Regions from separate parts of the Homo sapiens genome. Here all the other regions are linked to region 3. Evidence: fine-mapped expression QTL. A gene starts in region 3. Each other region holds a variant in brackets. All regions are shown on one strand. Distances are from middle to middle.

Region 1 (4,111 bases), 52 kb before region 3:
TCAAACAGTCTGAGGAAGGAATCGTGGGGCAGGCTGAGATGAAAGCCTCAGGACTTGAGTGAACAGAAGGGCAGGAGTAGAATGTACTAGGTAGGGGCCCATCAGCAAAGGCTGGGCTAAGACCCTGTGGGACTTGTTAGGGGGTGAGGAGCTGCTGGTAGAAGGGCAGGGAAGAGCACTTGCTTGCAGTCTGACAAACCCAGGGCTTGGGGTGTGATATACTTTTTGTAAAAATTGAGGTTACTAAATCCTAGTTGGTGGTTCCCACTGAAAATTAAAGGAAATAATTTAGTTGGAATTGTCTGGCCAGGCATGGTGGCTCACACCTGTAATCCTAGCACTTTAGGAGGCCGAGGCGGGAGGATTGCTTGAGCCTAGGAGTTCAAGACCAGTCTGGGCAACATATCAAGATCCCCGTCTCAAAAAAAAAAAAAAAAAAAAAAAAAAAAGGGAGGAAAAAAGAAATTTCCCAACCTGCATGCTTGGCATATTATAGTGATGGTGCAATCTTTCTGAACTGTCTTACAAACAGTGGGAACCTTCGAAAGCTTTGGGTGGGGTGAGGGAGGGAGTTGACCAAGCCCAGGAATTCTGGACATTAGCATAACAGTGGGGCAGGGAAAGTGGGACCTAAAGTCCAGCCTGGTAGCTGTTTTCTGCAGTTGAAAGAGTGACAGAGGGAGAGGGAGAGAAAGACACTTCAAATGAGTCATCCACTGGATTTGGTGGTGGGCTGGCCATGGGGAGGGATGGTATTATGCTTTGTTCATTGGCTTTTTTATGACTCAGTTTACACTGGTTCCCTCCTGACTCACTGATGTTTCTCTTGTCCTGCAAGGAGCCTGTGTGAAATGCAGCAAAGGGGTGTTTGGGGCTGGCCAGGCCTGTCAGGCCATGGGGAACCTCTACCATGACACATGCTTCACCTGTGCAGCTTGCAGTAAGTGTGGGTGTGGGTGTCGGGTGTGTGGGGGATGCGTAAGGAACATGGGAACCGAGAAAGGGAGGAGAGAGATCATCTTTCTGGAGACGGTTGGTCCATGGCCCTCCTCAGCCCCACAGAAAAGCCAGACAGTGTCTTTTACAGCAGGGTTTCTTACCACCAACAGAAGCCCATCAGGGCACGGTGACTTAACACAATACCAAAGATTGCCTGTGATTCTGGTGATAAGTTGAATGAGTTCAGAGTGATCCCTAATCACATCAGGTTTGAAATATGTAAGAAGAGGTTTCAGAAGATTTGGGAGGAAGTGCTGGGATTCACCATGTCTACCCTGTTTGTCAGTTCTCTCCCCCACTGTGGGGACCAGCCAACCAAAAGTGATTAGTCAGTCAGCTACCCCAGTGTGAGGTGGAGGTGGGGGTCCTTTATTACTCTGTAACCACCTCCCTAACCTAATCTTTGATTTGGAGGCTGCTGTATGAGCATGAGGTGTGTGTGCATGCCACCCATGTGCTGGTGCCTACCTAGCACACACCTGTGGGCATCTTTGTACTCCAGTACATGCATTATAATTCAAGCAGCCCATCAGGAGTCTGGATTGAATGGATGGCAACCGCTCCCCGTGGAAGATTCTAACACATTGCATGCTTGCCAAGTCTGACCAAGTTATGGATTTTGCTTGTTTTCTGTCTCTATCAAAGATTAATTTTGAGGAGTATTTTTGGAAAATGTCCTACTTATATTCTCAATCCTATACTGAGGCTAACAGCTCTCAACTAAAAGGGAATGTTACAGCAGAGTCACAGGGTGTCAGGAACAAAGGGGTCTTTCTAACCATCTGGCCCCGTGGTTTGCAATCCTGGCTGCTCATTAGAATCACCTGTGGAGACTTTAAAACCCTGCTAATCAGAATCAGAGCTAAATCCTAATCTGATAGGATTAGCTAGGAACCTCAATCTGATTCTGCTAATCAAGGGTGGGGCCAGGGCATCACCCTTGGAATTTCTAGAGTGAGGCAAGTGTATTAATTTTTTTTTTTTTTTTGAGACGGAGTCTCGCTTTGTCACCCAGGCTGGAGTGCAGTGGTGCTATCTCAGCTCACTGCAACCTCCGCCTCCTGGGTTCAAGCGATTCTTTTGCTACAGCCTCCCGAGTAGCTGGGACTACAGATGTGCACCAGCACGCCCAGCTAATTTTTGTATTTTTAGTAGAGACGGGGTTTCACCATGTTGGCCAGGATTGTCTCGATCTCTTGACCTTGTGATCCACCCACCTCGGCCTCCCAAAGTGCTGGGATTACAGGCGTGAGCCACTGCGCCCGCCCAAGTGGGGCAAGTGTATTTTTTCACAGCTTCTCAGATACTTCCAGGGTGTGATCAGGGCTGACTACCATTGGTTTGGGGATCCTCATTTTGAATCCTTCTGGAGAAGGGAAGGGGAAGAACTTGCTCACAGCCAGAGATCCTAATTCCCAGTATAAAGTTAACCAGTGC[AT/A]TGTGGTTAACCAGTGGCCTCCTAACCTGCTGAGCCTTGATGGTCCAGGCCTGAGTTCTGAACCTCATGCTTCAGTCCTCACTGCAATTTGCCTTAGAACACATGCCTGAGAGTTTATGGTTTACACATTGATCAGTGTTCACCTGTGTAGGGAAAGACTATGAGAATGTCCGCAGTGGAAATCTAGGAGTGGTCTGGTTATCGAATTCTCTGGGTCTCTGTGCCTTTCCTTGTCTTTGAGCTATGTTGCACTCTGTAAGTTGTAGAATATTGATGGTACAACACATTCTTGTCTATAGCAATGCAGACTGTCTGGTGAGGTGCAGTTGATGATTGTTACCCTGTGGAGATTGACCAGTTTTGCAATCTATTTAGCAAATTGATTTCAACATTCCTGATGGCCTATGGTTCTTTGAATTCTCCCCATTAAACCCATTAATTGGTTCCTTTATTAATTGATGAGTTAAATAAAGTCTTTGGCACATGTTTGTGTTTTATCCATATGGGAGTTGTGTTTAGGCCCCCCTTTATTTATTTATTTAGTTAGTTAAATTTTAATTTTAGTTTTAGATTCAAGACGTGCAGGTTTGTTACAAAGGTATATTGTGTGAATCTGAAGTTTGAGCTTCTATTGGTCCTGTCACCCACACAGTGAACATAGTACCCAGTAGAAAGTTTTTCAGCTATTTGGTTTTCTGTTTCTTGTGTTTCTATGTTGCTGCAAAGGACATGATGTCACTTTTTTATGGCTGTGTAGTATTCCATGGTGTATATGTACCACATTTTCTTTATTCAGTTACTGCTGATGGGCACCTAGGTTGATTCCATGTCTTTGCTATTGTGAATAGTGTGGTGATAAACATACGAGTGCAGGTATCTTTGGTAGAAGATGTACTTTTCTTTGCATATATATCCAGTAATGGGATTACTGGGTCAAATGGTAGCTCTATTTTTAGTTCTTTGAGAAATCTCCTAACTGTTTTCCACAGTGGCTGAACTAATTTACACTCCCACCAACTGTGTATAAGCATTGCCTTTTCTCTATAGCCTTGCCAACATCTACTTTTTGACTTTTTAATAATGGCCATTTTGTGGTTTTGATTTGCATTTCTTTGATGATAATGATGTGGAGGTTTGTTTTGTTTTGAGATGGGGTCTCACTGTGTCATCCAGGCTGGAGTGCCATGATGTAATTGTAGCTCACTGCAGCCTTGAACTCAAGCAACCCTTCTGCCTTAGCTTCTGAGTAGCTGGGACTGCGGGCATGTGCCACCATGCCCAGCTAATGGTTTAAAATTTTTGTAGAGACAGAGGTCTCGCTGTGTTGCCTAGGCTGGTCTTGAGCTCCTGACTTCTGGTGACCCTCCCACCTCAGCCTCCCACAGGGCTGGGATTACTGGCATAAGCCACCACACCTGACCCTTGAGCATTTTTTTCATGTTTGTTGGCTGCTTGTATCAGATCTTTGTTTACAATTTATCTTTGACCTTTGACTCCTACAACAGTTTCTCAATACTTGCTCTATTTTTCAGGAAAAAGAAAATAAATATTAAGGAGAGGCTGTTTTCCACCTCAAGCAGTTACCATTTGAATTAGGGAAGCTGTTGGTGAGGGAAAACCAATTGATGAGCGTCTTAGTCTGTTTGGACTGTTATAACAAAGTACCATACACTG
Region 2 (4,111 bases), 160 kb before region 3:
TGAACCCAGGAGGTGGAGCTTGCAGTGAGCCGAGATCACACCACTGCACTCCAGCCTGGGCGACAGAGCGAGACTCCGTCTCAAAAAAAAAAAAAAGAAATCTTATCTTTAGGGAGATACACCTGAGCAAGGATAAAGTTGTAATTAGTAAAGAAATAGCAGTCCCTCATATCTGCCTAGAGAAGGGGATGTTTGATATTTTGTGTGTTTCACAGTGACCTTGTCTTTGTGCTTTGACAAAATTATGACATGGTCTTGTTTTGGTCTCCTTTTATGTTTTCAGTGTGACTGTCTGATGTTGGTGTTCAGTGAGATCATTTGTGTTGAACAGGAGAATAATATGGCCTAGCTATGCACAACTGGTGAATTTCTTATAACACTGAGGCCTAGCTATAATTGTCAGACCAGTTCCCAGATGATAAGGACTGAGAATAAAAATCCCCTAACCATCACCCTCTAGAAATAAACAGCCACCATCAGCATCTTAGCGCAGATCATTGCAGTGGATATGGTGGCTGGGTGCAGTGGCTCACGCTTGTAATCCCAGCACTTTGGAAGGCCCAGGCAGGAGGATCACTTGAGCCCAAGAGTTCAAGACCAGCTTGGGCAACATAGGGAGACCCCATCTCTACAAAAAATTTTAAAATTATCTGGATGTGGTGGCATGTGTCTGTAGGCTCAGCTACTCGGGAGGCTGAGGTGGGAGGATCACTTGAGCCCAGGAGTTCACGGCTGCAGTGAGCCATAATCATGCCACTGTACTCCAGCCTGGCTGACAGAGCAAGAGCCTGTCTCACAAAACATAGAAAAAGTAAAATGATTGTGTTCACTTACCTATGTGTATTGTATTTTGTGTCCACTTGTCTGTGTTGTGTTGTGTTTTGTCATGTCTCTTTATAAAATTTAAATACCCTAAAATTTACCCATTTTAAGTATATACTCAGTGTTTTAAGTAAATTTATATACTTGTGCACCCATCACCATGATCAGTTTTAGAACTGGATTTCCATTACTGAAAAAAGGTTCCCCACACCATTAGTCAATCCCACACCCACTCCAACCCCCAGCATGACTAATCTTTCTGTCTCTGTAGTTTTGCCTTTTCCAGAAATGTTATATAAATGAAATCATACAATGTGTAGTCATTTCTGTTTTATTTCATTTAGCATAATGCTTTTGAGATTAATCCATGTTCTGTTTATAGTAGTTCATTCCCTTTTATTGATGACTTGTTTTATTGTTAAGCGAGAGGTCATCTTATAACCTGATTTACTCACTTAAATATTCCATGAACATATATTTATGGGCCATTAAATACTTTTCTACAACATCTTTTTTTTTTTTTGGAGATGGAGTCTCACTCTGTTGCCTAGGCTGGAATGCAGTAGTACAATCTCCACTCACTGCAACTTCCCCTCCCAGGTTCAAGAGATTCTCCTGCCTCAGCCTCCCAAGTAGCTGGGATTACAGGCACCTGCCACCACGCCTGGCTAATTTTTGTATTTTTGGTAGAGACAGGGTTTCACCGTGTTGCCAGTCTGGTCTCAAAACTTCTGACCTCAGGGGATCTGCCTGCCTCGGCCTCCCAAAGTGCTGGGATTGCAGATGTGAGTCACCGCGCCCGGCCTACAACATCATTTTTAATGGTCATACAGTTTTCCATTGTTTGAATTTACGCACTCCCTATCATTGAACATTCAAACTGTTTATAGTTATACATTATTTTTTTAAAAGCTAAGTAGCCGCCGGGCACGGTAGCTCACACCTGTAATTTCAGCACTTTGGGAGGCTGAGGTGGGCTGATCACCTGAGGTCGGGAGTTCGAGACCAGCCGTCAGGCTCTACTAAAAATACAAAATTAGCCGGGCGTGGTGGCGCATGCCTGTAATCCCAGCTACTCAGGAGGCTGAGGCAGGAGA[A/T]TCGCTTGAACCCAGGAGGCAGAGGTTGCGGTGGGCTGAGATTGCGCCATTGCACTCCATCCTGGGCAATGAGAGCGAAACTCCATCTCCAAAAAAAAAAAAAAAATGCTAAATAGCTAATGTTTACGTGCAAAATTATTTCCTAAGAACACATAACTAACTGTAATTGCTTGGTCAGAAGAGATACAAAAGATTAAGGCTTTTGATGCACACTCTCAAATCAAATTCCAGAAATTCTCTGGGTCTTCTGTGAATATGCCTGAACAGAAACATGAGCAGATATTATGATTCCAGATGTTAAATATGGACTTTTCAATCCCTTTGTGATAAACCCATTCTGCAAACTGGAGTAGCCCAACCTGGGCCCATCCCATGTCTTTGAAATCCTGAGTGATTGCTCACACCTTTGCAGCTGTGAGGATGGGTAACAGGGGCCCATACACCTGGGCCCAGAGCGAGGAGATATGTCTTAGAGGAGCTCAAGCAGCAGGCTGTGGTGGTGGTGTCAGCATCAGAGCCCTAGTGCATCCTGTCTGGACAGACTTCAGAGAGTCAGTCAAAACACGACTTCAGAGAGTCAGTCAGAACACAGAGCAACAGTTTGACCATCTTTGCTTTACACTGGGCTTAGGTCGGTTTCTCAGGTTAGCAAAAAATTAAATTCTCAGTATTTCCAGTTTAACAATATGATATTTAAGAATATGATATTTGGAGTTTTTTGTTTGTTTGCTTGTTTGTTTTTGTTTTTTTAACATATAAACTTTTAAAATAACCACATTAGGCTGGGCGCTGTGGCTCACGCCTGTAATCCCAGCACTATGGGAGGCCGAGGCGGGCGGATCATGAGGTCAAAGATCAAGACCATCTTGGCCAACATGGTGAAACCCCATCTCTATTAAAAATACAAAAATTAGCTGGGCATGGTGGCATGTGCCTGTGAAGTCACATACTCAGGAGGCTGAGGCAGGAGAGTTGCTTGAACCCGGGAGCTAGAGGTAGCAGTGAGCCAAGATCGCACCACTACGCTCCCACCTGGTGACAGAGCAAGACTCCGTCTCAAAAAAAAAACTGCATTAATTGTCCATGTGTGCCATGACTTAGTGTGTCTAACATTTCACTCCCATAAACAATCCACCATGGACAATTCTGTGCATAAATCTTGTTCTCACTTCATATTATTTCCTTGAAGTGGAAAAGATATGAATCTATTTAAGACTCTTGATATATATTAACAAATTATTTTCCTAAGAAGTTATTCCATCTTCCACTCTAGGATCTGTTTTTGAATTGTACATTGTGCTTCAATGATTTAACTATTGCATTTTTACAGACAGTTTTAACACCTGGCAGACTAGCCTTTCTTCATTTCTTTTCTTATAATTATTTTACCTCTTCTCACCTGTTTATTTTTCTCAGCAAAACTCTGCATAATTTGTTAAGTTTCCCCAAAATCACCATGACATTTCAATTGAAATGTGGTTAAACTTAGAATTAATTCAGGAAGGTTTCACATCTTTACCTCATCCAAACTTTCATCCTAGCTCATGGTCTGTCTCAAGTATTTTCTTTTCTTTTGTGTTCTTGTAGAATAGAATCTCTTTCTGCTATATTTTCTGACTGATAATGGCTGGCATATTTTTCTTCTGTAAAACCACATTGACACCAACATTTGTTTTATTTCAGTTAAGATTTATTGTGAGTTGATAGTCTTCTTAATGTTGTCAAATAAAGGTTAATACCATGGAAATCTGATCAGTTAAGAAAAATATATGTAGACTGATAAAAAACTATAAGAAAGAATTAATCTATTAATCTAATAGATTAATCCAAGTAACATGAATCCTCTGGAATATATGAGGAAAATAACTCATTATTTTCTTAGTATAATTGATTTTTTAAATCTTTTAAATTTTTTTAAATTTATTTTTATTTTTTGAGGCAGGGTCTCACTCTGTTGTCCAGGCTGGAGTACAGAGGCACAATCTGGGCTTATTGCAGCCTTGACCTCCTGGGCTCAAGCAGACCTCGTGCCTCAGCCTCCCAAGTAGCTGGGACTGTAAGCACATGCCCCTACGCCCGGCTAATTTTTGTATTTTTTCTTTTTATAGAGATGGTGTCTCACTGTGTTGCCCAGGCTAGTCCTGAGCTCCTGGGCTCAAGCAGTCCTCCCTCCTTGGCCTCCCAAAGTGCTG
Region 3 (4,111 bases):
GGCGTGGTGGCACACACCTGTAGTCCCAGTTACTTGGGAGGCTGAAGCAGGAGAATTGCTTGAACCCGGGAGGCAGAGACTGCAGTAAGCCGAGATCACGCCACTGCACTCCAGCCTGGGTGACAGAGCGAGACTCCGTCTCAAAATAATAATAATTCAACACAGGGTCTCATTCTGTTGCTCAGGCTGGAGTGCAGTGGCATGGTAACAGCTCACTGCAGCCTCAACCTCCTGGGCTGAGGTGATCCTCCCACCTCAGCCTCCTGAGTAGCTAGGACTATAGGTGCACACCACCACACCTGGCTAATTAAAATTTATTTATTTATTTAGTAAATAGAGATGAGGTCTTGCTATGTTGCCCAGGCTGGTCTCGAACTCCTAAGCAGCATCATTTTTTCTAGGTGTTAAACTGACAACCACCCAAATTCCCAGCATAAGGATTCTGCTTAAAATATCTAGCTCTCTGATGAAATATCTTCAAAGAATATTTAATGACCTTAAATCTCAGACAAAAAGGTAAGGAGACAAAATGAGGAACCCATTTCCGTACAACCCCAATTTGGAAAAACACATGTGCAAGTATGCCCATGTTAAAAAATATAGAAGAAAAAAAGGCTTTAAGGAAAAAAAAAATAATAGTAATGATTTAGGGTGGGAATCGCGTTAATATTCCCAATAATTTTATATATTTTAAAAATCTATAATTTTATCAGGGGAAAACGTTATGTTGCGGAAATTAATTGATCGATTGAGTGATTGGTTAACGGACAGTGTCCGATGACTCATATAATCCCCCGGTTCGAGTCCCTTTAGGCCGCAGACGTTTCGCGCCTTCTCGGGTGTCCAAGTCGCGCATCCATACAATGAGGGGTAATATACTAGATTACCTGAGGTCTTCTTACGGTAAAAACACCGGTGTCTTAAGGTTTCCCAGTGGAATTTGGGGGCCGGGTTGACTTCGGAGCTGGAGCTCGCAAAGGCCGGGGCTGCTGCAGATTCTGACGCTTTGTGGACCCCTACTACCGAGCGCAGCCGCACCGCAGGTTTTCTTCGCTGCTGGTTAGATCCAAAGCCCATCCCATCCTAGTAAACTGGGACAGCGCCGCTTCTCACATCACTATGGGGGCTTCTGCTCCGTGGCGGGGAAAGGCCAGAACTGCTGCCTTAAATACGCTTTTGCATCATCCGGTTGCTAACCTCCGGCCACAGCATTCCCCACTCCAAAATGCCACTTTTCCAGGTGTGTTTGCCTAAATTTACCCCATTTACAGACTTCTCAGGTGCATCATTGGGAACAGGGCGCTTTGCAGTTTGCAAACCACCTCAGACAACTCCAGGTTTAAAGGATAAAGGATGACATTGTGAGCAAAGCGGCATCAAAATTTCAGATATTTAACTTTCACATTCTAACCATACACCTTTCCAAGGTCTTGTAATACTTTCACATTGTGAATATACATCTTTACAAGACCCAGTAGTACATGGGTCAAGTGTGGCAAAACAGACATCGCGAGCCAGCCAGGAGTCGAACCTAGAATCTTCTGATCCGTAGTCAGACGCGTTATCCATTGCGCCACTGGCCCCGACTTGCTAAAGCCTTCTCCGTGATAGCTGATCACCCTTATACAGTTTGAACGGGCTTCCGGGTACCAACGATCCATTTTGCCCTTGCGCCGCGCTCCCGCTGCTCTGCCTTTCCCCAAAACGCGCCCCACCAATCCGCAGCGGCTTCGTCACGGCGCTCTTCGTCGCACTCCAACCCGCCGCGTCGGCGGCATCTCTCGCGTGCTCTTGCTTGCGCACTAATTTGTCCTCCACCGCCTCCCGTTCAGGCCGGCTCTCCTGCGGGGCGGGGAAAGGGGTGGGAAGAGGCTGGGAGCTGCGGCCGCTGTGCCAGGGTGACCGGTAGAGTTGTAGCCGAGGTGGCGGCGCGGGGCGGGGCGGGCGGAGAGAGAAGGAAGGAGGTGGTTGTGCAGGATGGCGACGGCGGCCTACGAGCAGCTGAAGCTGTGAGTCCCACGGGCCAGAGGCCTGAGGCGCGGCGGGCGGGGCGGCAGGTGCGGGCCCTGGCCTCGGGGAGGGCTTCTGAGTCCCGGATTGCAGATAGGGTGTGGGAGCTCCTCGCATTTACCGGTTTTCCTCAGCCGGCGCGGCCTCTCCTAGGCCTCGCCCGAGTAGCCATAGGCCGGGAACCAGCGGCTCGCCGGCCTTTCTCCACCGTGCTCGGCCCCAGCGCCCACGGCTGAAGAGAGAAGCTGCCGACTGGCCCCCACCGAGCCGGGGTCGGCGTTATGATGCGGCCCTTCAGGGCACGCTTGTCCCCACTTTCTATGCAGAGCTACCGACTAAATTTATCTGTATGACTTAACAGAGAAAAAGAGTTTTCTCTTACTTAACGGACCTACAGCAGCAATTTAGAGTCTACGCACAAATCAACAAATCTTTGTTTTGCTTACAGCCTATCTGGGTACCGAAGCCTGCCTGCCCCCTCTTCAGTGTGCAGAAAAAATTTAAAGTACAGTCAGTAGTCTTAAGGTCCTGAAGGAGTTTACTTTGGTTTAAATTTTAAACAGCTCCAGCCTAAAGCAGGTTCTTAAGTCAGTGTCGACAGCCAGAGGCTAATCTCGGTAATTTTGGTACTGCAAATTGACTTTTCGGTAAATCCAAGTTCTTGAGTCTTTGATACAGAGGCTGTGGTTGTTAAGAGTTATAAAATAGGTGTTTTTAAGGGTTTTGGTTTGTCTTGGATTAAAAACAACATGTGTTTATTTCCCTTAGTGTTACCCATTAGCATCCACACTTTTCTTGTCTGTGAATAATTTTGTTGTACTCACTTCGTGTTTAATGCTTTACCCCTAGGCTGTTTGAAAATCTGGTGGCCACAGCCTGGGAATATCTGGTAGGAGAAACAAATGTAATTTTTTAGAAGCTTATCTATCCCTGTATATGAGCTAAAATACCTTGGCAGTTAGGCATAGATACCGCATTTCTTTTGCAGGGAAATGACACCAAAATGTGGTTTGGGCACTTAAGCTCCTCAGACCTCAACCTCACTAGTAACTTTCTGAAAGGTTCAGTGGAAAGTTAGAGGTGCAAAATTCAGAGAGGTCATCTATTCCACATTGTATGTGTTGCAAAAAAGATGATTGCTTTTTCTACAGTGCACCCCCTGTGGGTGCCATTTCTGTTTACTGTAATGTTCTTTGAAAACCCTAGCTGCACACTTCCCTCCACATTTTCCTCTCCACCTTTCCCTATTTTCTCCCAGTTCCCCTTTGCAAAGTGCTCACCTCGTCTTTGGTGAAAGAGTTGAAGGAAGTGTCTTCCACTGCGTTTCTGGCCAGGCCACTGTCACATGTGCTCTGCTAGCTAATTAGGTTATTGTGTATCTGATAGGCACTGAAGGGTTTAATGTGATCCTACACCAGGTCTCAAATGTGTTTAAGCCATATGGAGCCATGGCTTCATGCAGCTTAGCGTGGCAAAGATTGAATAGGATGGAGAACTTGAGAATTATGATGATTGTTTTTCAGCTGCCAGAACACTAAATTTAACCAGTTCAGACCTTAAAACAAACCCAAATCCTCGCATACATAAAAGAGAAAGGAAATTTGTCCCTGAAGTAGTAAGAATGATGTTTTTGTATTGATTTTTGTGAGAAGTGGAAACTCTTAAATTATTTGGGTGATAAAGTCAAACTGGGGTTATGTGAAAGTCATTCTCTCATTTGTCAGTCCTAGCTTTTTTTCCCCCTGAAAAAAAAGTTTAGAGTGTTTCTGTAAATGTGAAGGTACAACTTTTTTGCACCTTTTTCTTTACCAAGGGGTTTATGAGTTAGAGTTTCCATTTTTATTCCTTCCTTTTGGCCCTTCCTGCTCTGAGGCTGCTGTTGAAGGTTTTCAAATGTGGCTCCTGCCCTAAGGAGTATTCTTTTTTGGATGCATTTAGAAGTGAAATTGGTTTCTGTGTAAGAATTGGTAGGAGATAGTAGCCATTTTTTAAAATGTGTCTGGAGATGTGTTTTAAGAAATATCCATGCAAAAGAGATAGTTCGATTATTTTATTACAAAAGGATTGCTAAAAGGATTTATTTAAATGTTGAAATGCTTGT

Evidence for each region. PIP is the estimated chance that this variant, and not a neighbour inherited with it, causes the effect. A credible set is the group of variants that fine-mapping cannot tell apart.
Region 1: its variant is the best candidate, but not a certain one, in a credible set for the expression of SACM1L in whole blood (INTERVAL, PIP 0.67).
Region 2: its variant is the best candidate, but not a certain one, in a credible set for the expression of SACM1L in whole blood (TOPMed, PIP 0.54).

Annotation. Positions count from the first base shown.
Region 1 is chr3:45,635,312-45,639,422 of GRCh38, forward strand. It overlaps LIMD1 (LIM domain containing 1), which reads left to right. Exons shown (of 8, transcript NM_014240.3): 2 at 839-940. Among named protein-coding and RNA genes, the nearest start is that of LIMD1, 43 kb to the left of the region's middle. RefSeq lists an enhancer at 3,746-4,040. The variant AT/A (reference allele first, on the strand shown) is at 2,437.
Region 2 is chr3:45,527,542-45,531,652 of GRCh38, forward strand. All of the region lies in intron 20 of LARS2 (leucyl-tRNA synthetase 2, mitochondrial), which reads left to right. Among named protein-coding and RNA genes, the nearest start is that of LARS2-AS1, 20 kb to the left of the region's middle. The variant A/T (reference allele first, on the strand shown) is at 1,920.
Region 3 is chr3:45,687,489-45,691,599 of GRCh38, forward strand. It overlaps SACM1L (SAC1 like phosphatidylinositide phosphatase), which reads left to right and starts at 1,908. Exons shown (of 20, transcript NM_014016.5): 1 at 1,908-2,009. The coding sequence starts at 1,978. LIMD1-AS1 (LIMD1 antisense RNA 1) reads right to left here and starts at 1,394. Exons shown (of 3, transcript NR_033947.1): 1 at 888-1,394. TRR-ACG2-1 (tRNA-Arg (anticodon ACG) 2-1) reads right to left here and starts at 1,583; the gene lies at 1,511-1,583. RefSeq lists enhancers at 710-779, 1,290-1,339, 1,600-1,889 and a silencer at 1,920-2,099.